2 linked regions of the Homo sapiens genome follow. Changing the gene in region 2 together with the main gene of any one other region gives a genetic interaction. Each region holds a gene or a part of one and is shown on either strand. Other genes may lie near its edges.

Region 1 (4,115 bases), on a different chromosome or scaffold from region 2:
TGGCTTAGCAGTGAAATGCAAACTAATAACCCCACTATCAACAGCATTAGCAGTTAACTATATCTTAACTCACATGATGTAGGCAATGCGCTGTCTTAAAATCATTTTTGTGCCTCCACCTATCAGTAGATCAGGGTTCTTAAATTCTGTGTGCCATGGTCATCTGATACCAATAGACCCCTTCTCATAGTTATGTTTTCAAATGCATAAAACACATAGAATTACAAAAGAAACCACTTATGTTGCACTACAGATATAAACAACATGTTTTTTAAAGTGGTGATGTAGTCATATGTACTTTTAATAAATTAACTTATTGATTTACACCATCCACTGTAATTATTAATGTAATTTTGAAATGGTGACAAGGGTAAACAGCATTTCAAGATGCTTAACAACTGTGCTGTGGTGGGAAAAAAAAATTCTCTTGCTGGCAAAGTCACAGACAGTCATACCACTGTGAGCACCTGACCCCATTTGTAATTGAAGGAAACAAAAAAATTTAGCTAGAGGTTAATGGAAATATGGGGATAATTTTCCAATTCAAGTTCACAGACCCCAAGTTAAGAAACCCTGCGAGAGAGAAGTATGTGTAGTGGTTGGTGAGCAGCAAATCCTGCCTTAAAGTGATTCTCAGGCTAAGTTTGTGAGAAACCCTGCCAAAGAGGTGGTCGACTTCATAATTTGGAGGAACTTTAGAATTATTGGTTGGAATTTTTAGACCATTGGTTCCTGCTTGCCATGGATAGTGGTCACCAGCAGAGGATAAAGTAAAATGGACACAGCAAATTAACACTGATGAAAAAGGCTAGAAGTGGTCATCTTTTTAGTGTGGAGACATTCACTAAGAAAACATGGTTGTAATTTTTAAAAATTTGCATTAGCATAATCATGTTTTCCTAACGTAAAATTGTACCTAGTTGATCCATAGAATTAAGTCTATCAACAGTTTAAGAAATTGACTTCCAGGTGTTCCTTCATGTGAATAAATTTGGGAATTGTTGCAGAGTAAAGAAACAGATTCTATCAACTACACTTGGAATAAAAAGCCCCATTATAGGGCTGGGCGTGGTGGCTCACACCTGTAATCTTAGCACTTTGGGAGGCTGAGATGGGAGAATCGCTTGAGCCCGGGAGTTTGATACCAACCTGGGCAACATGGAGAAACCCTGACTCTACAAAAACATTAAAAAATTAGCCAGGTATGGTGGCATCTGCCTGTAGTACCAGCTACTTGGGAAGCTGAGGTAGGAGGATGCTTTAAGCTCAGGAGGCAGAGGTTATAGTGAGCCAAGATCACGCCACTGCACTCCAGCCTGGGCGACAGAGCCAGACCCTGTCTCAAAAAACAGCCTCATTATTGGTTATTATGTTTCTACCTTCTTTTGTTGTGGTCTCTTGAGGGATACAGCAAGATTGGTGTTGGAGCAACAGGTTCTCTAAATTTTAGTGTGTGAGAATCCTGAGGGAGCTGCACATTCCTGGGCTCCACCCCTGAAGTTAACAGACTTGGAGATAGGTGACAGACACACTAGTGGTTGAGTGGTCCAGATGGCACTCTCAGAACATGGCCCTGGAGCTGCCTTGGCATCTGTTGGCCAGAGGCGAGAATGTGATCTTTTTGTGTCTGCATGCTCCTAAACATTGGTTCTGCCCTTCCATCCAAGTTCACCCATGAAAAAAGCTCTGTGATTAGCCTGGGTTATCTAAGTCCTGCCACTTCCCAGTTTTGTATTGCCTTGGGCAAGTTATCCTCTGTGTCTCAGTTTCATCATCTGTAAAATTAGGGCAATAAATAATAACATCTACCTTGTTCAAAGATTAAATGAGTTAATATATGTAATGGACTTAGGAACGCCACCCGGTGTGGAATAAGCCATATAGAGATGTTAGCTGTTATTTAATTATTATCATTACTGTACCTGTAATTGAAATATAACCAAAGAGAATTATATGGCTGTTTAGTAAATTTACTTTTGTATTTTCCAGAAAGGATTCAGGAATAAGAGGTCAGAAAGGTAGCTGAAAAGGTCATTATTTCATTCTCTGCCTTTTAAAGACTCTGGGGGGAAAATTCCCTTATCTCTTTCAACCCAACTCATTTTGTAGTCTAGCAGATTCTTATAGTCAGACTCCAAGTAGTGTAATTTTCTAGTTTAAATCCATTTTCTCTTGTTCTACCTGGCTTACCTACGTAAGTCAGATATAAGAATTTGGCATTTCTCCTGTGTTTTGACAATATGTTTGGTCTTTAGGCCCAGGTGTTATTTCCCCTCTTTTATTGGGAAAAGCTGGGTAGCAGTTCCTGGGCTTCTGTTCCACTTAAGTGCATGTTTCAGGGTTGGTTTTGATAAAGATGGCAGTGTGATTGGGATTTAGTTTGCCCCAGTATTTAACTGACTACTTGTGCTCTAAGATTTGGCATCCAGAGAGTATTTTTGAGGTTCTGAGGAGAGACTGTAGGTATATCTGATGCTTTTTGGAGAATCCTAGTAGTGAGTCTGGGTGGCATGACCACCTTGTACTTGAAACACTGGGATGGGTACTCACCTCACCAGCCTGTGTTGATTCCTCTGAGGTTTTTAATACAATTACTTTATATGTTTGATGCATAATTATTTCGACTCCGGTATTTAATTTTTCATCTTGGTATTTGCGGTAGCCCTTCAGGATTATCATTCATTTGCTCATTAATTTAGCCGGTCTGTATTGAACACATACTCATGTGTTTTAGGCACAATGTGTTTTGGTACACATCAGTACTTTTGATAGATATTTAGAATGTCGCAGTGTTCCACGAGTCCCTGTCAAGACTGTCAGCAGGGGAATTTAAGACATAAAACTCTTCTGGTTTTAACTTCCTCCTTTTTCTAGACAGTGAGAGGACTCATTCCCTGTTGTGACCACTGGATAAAAGTGATAATGCTTTAAAAAAAAATGCTACTTTATTGCTTTTTGTCCTAATCTTGTTCACATAGACTTATTGGAGATGCTGTCACTTGAACAAGGAGTGAATCTATGCTCTGTAGGTAGCCTGGCTTGCCTAAGGACTTGCTGCCAAAGCTCTCGCTGCCAGAGCTCTCTGGTCAGCCTCTGAGCCACGAGCCAAAGGTGTGCTGTGCCAGAATTCATCTTAAAGTTTAATAGGGCAGGACCTTGGGTACCTGCAGACACTGGTCCTTGGTAATCAGTCAGGAAGAGGCTTGAAGAGAAAGCAAATAGAAAAGACCAGGAAAAGCTAGTGTATATTCTCAGAATATTGTGTTAGCCGATTTTTGTTTTATTAACAATTGTGGGAAAATGTTCCAGTGACTGGAGTGTTATGTTGATTTGGATAACTTGGGAGCTTATTTTAAAAATTACATATACATACACACATTCACCTTCTTCTTCTGCACTAGGACTGTGTGTGTTAAAGTGGAATATGGCCAGGCGCAGTGGCTCATGCCTGTAATCCCTGCACTTTGGGAGGTGGATGCAGGCAGATCACCTGAGGTCGGGAGTTCAAGACCAGCCTGACCAACATGGAGAAACCCTGTCTCTACTAAAAATACAAAATTAGCCAGACATGGTGGCACATGCCTGTAATCCTAGCTACTTGGGAGGCTGAGGCAGGAGAATAGTTTGAACCTGGGAGGCAGAAGTTGCAGTGAACGGAGATTGTGCCACTGCACTCCAGCCTAGGCAACAGAGCAAGACTGTTTCAAAAAGAAAAAATAAATCAGGGCCGGGCGCAGTGGCTCATGCCTGTAATCCCAGCACTTTGGGAGGCTGAGGCTGGCGGATCACGAGGTCAGGAGTTTGAGACCAGCCTGACCAACATGGTGAAACCCCGGCTCTACTAAAAATATAAAAATTAGCCAGATGTGGTGGTGCGTGCCTGTAATCCAAGCTACTTGGGAGGCTGAGGCAGGAGAATCACTTGAACCTGGGAGGCGGAGGTGTGGTGAGCCAAGATTGTGCCACTGCACCAGCCTGGGTGACAGAGTGAAACTCCATCTCAAAAGAAAAAACAAATTAGCTGGGAGTGGTAGCATGCACCTGTAGTCCCAGCTACTCAGGAGGCTGAGATGGAAGGATCACTTGAGCCCAGGAGGTCAAGGCTGCAGTGAGCC
Region 2 (5,052 bases):
GGGCCACCTCGTTCCTCACGGAGCAGCCGCCAGGTGGGCCTCAGACAAGAACTCAAGGAGCAAGTAACCTCACAGCAAAATTGCTCTTTCAGAAGGACAAAAACCTGCCACCATGCCCAGTCCCCATGTTTAGGAAGCTGCCAGCACAGGCAAGGGAGCATCCTGACGTGCTTGGAAGGGACTGTCATGCTGGAGGTGCTGCCGCCCTTGCCCTCTGTTGCTGGATATCAGGCAGGCCGAGGTTCCACCCAACTCCCCTCCTGTCAGTCATCTGGCCCACAGGCCTCCGTGTGCAGAGCCTGATCCAGGCCAGAGGATGGAACTGCCTGCTCCTGTACCACGGCCACGTGGAGCCTCCAAACCCCCGAGACGGGACTAGCTCACACTGTGATATGCCCCAATTGTCAAACACCCCCAGGGCCCAGGGCCCGCAGGTGAAATCAGATCACGGTGCCGTTCCTGCTGGCTGCGTGCTGTGAGGTGCAATCCCTGGCTAGGCAGGTAAGGGACGCAAGGCTCCCAGAAAGGACACCCCACGTATGGCCCATGTCCCTTCTTCTCTACTGGAGGGTGCCAAGACCTCACCCTGGGGGCCCCGTCTAAAATTCTGGATGCGCTGAGGTCAGGAGTTCAAGACCAGCCTGACCAACATAGTGAAACCTGTTCTCTACTAAAAATACAAAATTAGCCGGGCGTGGTGGCAGACGCCTGTAATCCCAGCTACTCAGGACACTGAGGCAGGAGAGTCGCTTGAACCCAGGAGGCAGAGGTTGTAGTGAGCCAAGATCGGGGCACTGCACTCAATCCTGGGCAACAAAAGTGAAACTCCATCTCAAAAAAATAAATAAAATAGTCCGGGCGCGGTGGCTCACGCTTCTAATCCCAGCGCTTTGGGAGGCCGAGGCGGGCGAATCACGAGGTCAGGAGATCGAGACCATCCTGCCTAACACGGTGAAACCCTGTCTCTACTAAAAATACAAAAAAATTAGCCAGGCGTGGTGGTGGGCGCCTGTAGTCCCAGCTACTCAGGAGACTGAGGTAGGAGAATGGCGTGAACCCAGGAGGTGGAGCTTGCAGTAAGCCGAGATGGCGCCACTGCACTCTAGCCTGGGCGACAGAGTGAGACTCCATCTCAAAAAAAAACCATAAATAAATAAATAAAATAAAATAAAACTCTGGGTGTGTCGGCTGATCTTACACTCAGCTTTTCAATTACAAGTGACGTGTACAGGAAAATTAGTCAAGAATTAGAGCCTGTGAGGCTGGGCGCAGTCACTCACGCCTGTAATCCCAGCACTTTGGGAGGCCGAGGCAGGCGGATCACAAGGTCAGGAGATCGAGACCACCCTGGCTAACATGGTGAAACCCCGTCTCTACTAAAAATACAAAAAAATTAGCCGGGCGTGGTGGCGAGCGCCTGTAGTCCCAGCTACTCGGGAGACTGAGGCAGGAGAATGGTGTGAACCCAGGAGGCGGAGCTTGCAGTGAGCCGCGATTGCGCCACTGCACTCCAGCCTGGGCTACAGAGTGAAACTCCATCTCAAAAAAAAAAAAAAAACAATTAGAGCTTGTACACCCTTAAACAAATGCCCCCCTAATCCTGAAGTATGAGGCTAAGACACGAAGTCCAGGCTCTGTCTCCTGAGGAGCCTGTGAGAACTGGTTGGGCCCAGACATTCCTGCTATGAGCTCTCCAACCCGCAGGAGCCCGGGCTGCCCTTTAGCCTAACCAGCGAGGCCACAGGCGATGGAGCCCATCTGCAGGTGAAGGGCCTGGTGGCAGGTGACCTGCTGACCAGCCGGCACCCCACCTGTGGCTGAGGCCAGACGTGTAACACAAGACTCCCCATCACCCCGCCCACCACCTGGCATCTCCGGAGCAGGCGGGAGGCCCTCCCACAAGGCCCCCTAGACTTACTGAACTGTGGCGGGGCACCGTAGCCCTGAGGGAAGCCCTGGGGAGGGGGAAAGCCTCCAGGAGGGGTGGACACGATGTAGGAGGTGAACGGTGGGGGTGGCGGGGGGGCTCCTCTTCCTGCAGGGGGCGGTCCATAGCCACCTGAAACACACAGTACGGGGGTGATGGACAGAGAGCGCTGGACAACACAGACTGGCCACAGTTAGACCCAGGCCTGCCAGGGGCCCTAGCAGGCCCCTCACCCTCTCTTCCTCTCCAGCACTCAGGACACGGGAACCAGGCTTTGCCGGCTGCCCCAGGACACCTGGCGAGTCAGCCTGCCATGTGGCTTCTGTCCCCGCCTTTGCTCTATAAACAAGGACTTACCAATCGCCTGTCCTGCCGGCACCCACATTCCTAGATAAGAGAACAGAAGAGGAGGTTGGCGCCGTGTCCACCAGCTGTCCGACGCAGAGAAGGAGCCGCAGAGCATGGACGTCAAGGGCTGGGACCAACCCCGGAGCCTCCTGTGCTTAGAGCCTGTTCGTCCTGAGGGCAGAGCCCTCTGAACCCTGAGCAGAGAAGCACTCCCCACCCCTTGTAGAACAGGCCTTAAAGCCACTCTCCTCTGTGCCCTGCCAGGTGGCGGGCACTGTGTCTGCTGACTGGGGCACGGGTGACCTCCCGGCTCCACCTGAGGACCCCAGAGAAACCTGAGACTTCTAAGCCTCGAGAGGGCAGGGACAGTCCCCACAGCACCTCCGAGTTTCCAACAAGGGAGGCTCCAGAGAAAAAGGTTTTAGACGAGGTGCAGGGAAGCCACAGTCTCGGGACCCGGACGACGTACATCTGGAACCCTGACCCACAACTCGGGTCGGGCTGCAGCCAAGCCCAGGGGTTCCGTGGCTGCTGGAAGCTCCAAGGACGGCCCACAACGTGGGCCTAACTACAGAGGGCCCACGGCACTGCAGAGGGAACGGCAGGTGGCAAGGATCCAAAGCCTGCCGGCTCCTCAAGCCCCCCAGGGGCAGCACCCCGATTCTGAGCTCAGCTTGGCAATGCCAGCCCTCTCAGGGTTTCGTGCTCAGACCTGCCGTGGCACACGGTCGCGAGGTGCAGACGCTCACTGCAGCTCTTCCCGGTGACAATGAGTCCCAGGCCCCGGACGGGCACCTAAGCCGTGGCCACCCCGCTACTGAGGAGGCTGCGGGTGCTGCCCGGGAGCTGGCTGTCAGCCGGCACCTCGCGGGGGCTCAAGGACACTGTGAACCGCGGCTCTGTGCATGCACAGCAGAGGTGGGGAGGCCGCAGCGACGGCACAGCCCAGGGCGCGCGGGCCAAGTCCGAGAAGGGGGACATTCCCGTGGGCACCTCTGCATCAGCCTTACCTTGCGGGCCATATCCTTGCTGCCACGTGGGCGGGGGCTGGCCTGCCCAGCCATTGGCAGCGTTGGGCACAACCCGGCTCCCCCACTGGCTGGCACCTGGCTGTCCCGGCGCTTGGCTCTTGCTGTCCCGAGGCTCAGCTCGTTTAACTTCCACCTAAACAAACCGAGCTCTGGTTTAGGGCGAGGCTGCGGGTCCCAGCACCCCCTTCCCTTTAGACACACCCTCGGGTAACTTATGACTACACTTAGCATCTTACAACTTAAGACTAAATACTTAACTATAAACCTTATTTAGGCCAGTAGCATTTTTTTCTTAAAAAATTCTTTTGTGTTGAATTTTTTTGTTTAAAAAATGTTTCTCAGGTACAACAGATGCAACCGTAAGACACACAGAGCCCGCCCACTGCGGGGCAGCAGGACCGAGCCCAGAGCCCTCGGGGGTTTCGTGCGTGACGAAGGGTCTTTCACTCAAGTAAAATGGCAGCGTCCTCCTTCCTCTTGAAAACATGGGGACAAAAAGGGACCAGGATCTTCCCAGCAATCGGCATCCTCATCGCCCTCTGGACTGCTTGGAGCCCGCCCACCTGTGCTTTTAACTCATACCTGAGAAACACGGCTGGTGTTTTACTTAGATTTTTAAATTTAAAATGTCTAATGGAAGATAAAGACTTACCTTCCCCAGGCTAACGCTTAAAGAATCTCAATTAACTCAAAACTAATGTCAGAGGGAATGGATGTGATAAGAGAATCTTACATTACATCTAACAAAAAAAGTAACAAACATGCAATAAAATGGACATTTGGATCAGTAAGCAATCTTCATACTGTGTTCGCTCAGCAGCCCGGGGCCCTTCCTCTCTAGACGTGTCAGGAGCCACAGTCTTCTCAGGAGGAGGGTGCGGGGCCGGGGACAATGGATGGAGCAGGCCTGACCTACTTATTCTAGGCGCAGTGGCTGACCTTCCTTTAATGCCTGCTTGAAAATATGGGTGGACTAACAACAGAAAGATCCCCCCAATTCCGGGGCTGCCTCAGCATTTGAGAATCCTGAATTTGTCTCACTTTTCTGATAAATCGTAATGAGAATAAAGAGACAATGGATCCACCTGGAGTCAGCCTTGGGGTCTCAGTCTGGAGAGCTGCACATCCTGAGTTCAGAATCCCTCAGTTCTGCCTGTTAGAGAACAGACAGCAGCAGCCACAGAGGCACAAAGCCCCCACCTGCCCAATGCCCCAAGGACCGGCCTATGATGGGAACAGGATCCGTTAGCTCAAGGCAATGTGACAGCAGGACCAAGGGACCCATTTCAAAGAACTCAAATGAGCGAGTCTTCACACACCCTCCTCAGGGGACTGCGGTTCCTGCTTACAAAGCAGAGCGGTCCTTGTACTTTAAAAAAACAAAAACAAAAAAAAATTCTTTCACCCTTTCCTACCTGAATGCAGCAATGCAGTCGCCTGGCATGGAGGGTTAACTACCACGCGGTACCAAACACTCCACAAACGGAAAACCCCCATGAGGGGCCGGCGGCGACGCCAAGTGCCGCTCCAGCCAACCAGTGAAGGCCGGCGCCGGGCAAGCTGGACTCCAACGACTGTCTGGCTTGGAAGGCGAGACCCACACTGAGGTCGCCCAGCTCAGGAGCTCGCGCAGAACAGTCATGGCTGGGGGGACCCAGGGGCTGCCCAGGGACGGCAGCAGGTGTGTGCACTGTACAGAGCTCTTTCTGCCCCGTATATCAAGACCACGCTTTCCCCAAATTGTCA

Evidence for each region. A genetic interaction does not mean that the proteins touch.
Region 1: changes in DAZAP1 (region 2) and DCAF7 together harm fitness more than expected from each alone (negative genetic interaction), as found in Homo sapiens cells (one large-scale study listed by BioGRID).

Annotation. Positions count from the first base shown.
Region 1 is NC_000017.11:63,552,862-63,556,976, forward strand, and holds part of DCAF7 (DDB1- and CUL4-associated factor 7), read left to right. Parts: intron 1-4,115. UniProt on the Homo sapiens protein: Involved in craniofacial development. Acts upstream of the EDN1 pathway and is required for formation of the upper jaw equivalent, the palatoquadrate. The activity required for EDN1 pathway function differs between the first and second arches.
Region 2 is NC_000019.10:1,427,229-1,432,280, reverse strand, and holds part of DAZAP1 (DAZ-associated protein 1), read right to left. Parts: intron 3,440-5,052; coding exon 3,286-3,439; intron 2,315-3,285; coding exon 2,285-2,314; intron 2,060-2,284; coding exon 1,919-2,059; intron 1-1,918. UniProt on the Homo sapiens protein: RNA-binding protein, which may be required during spermatogenesis.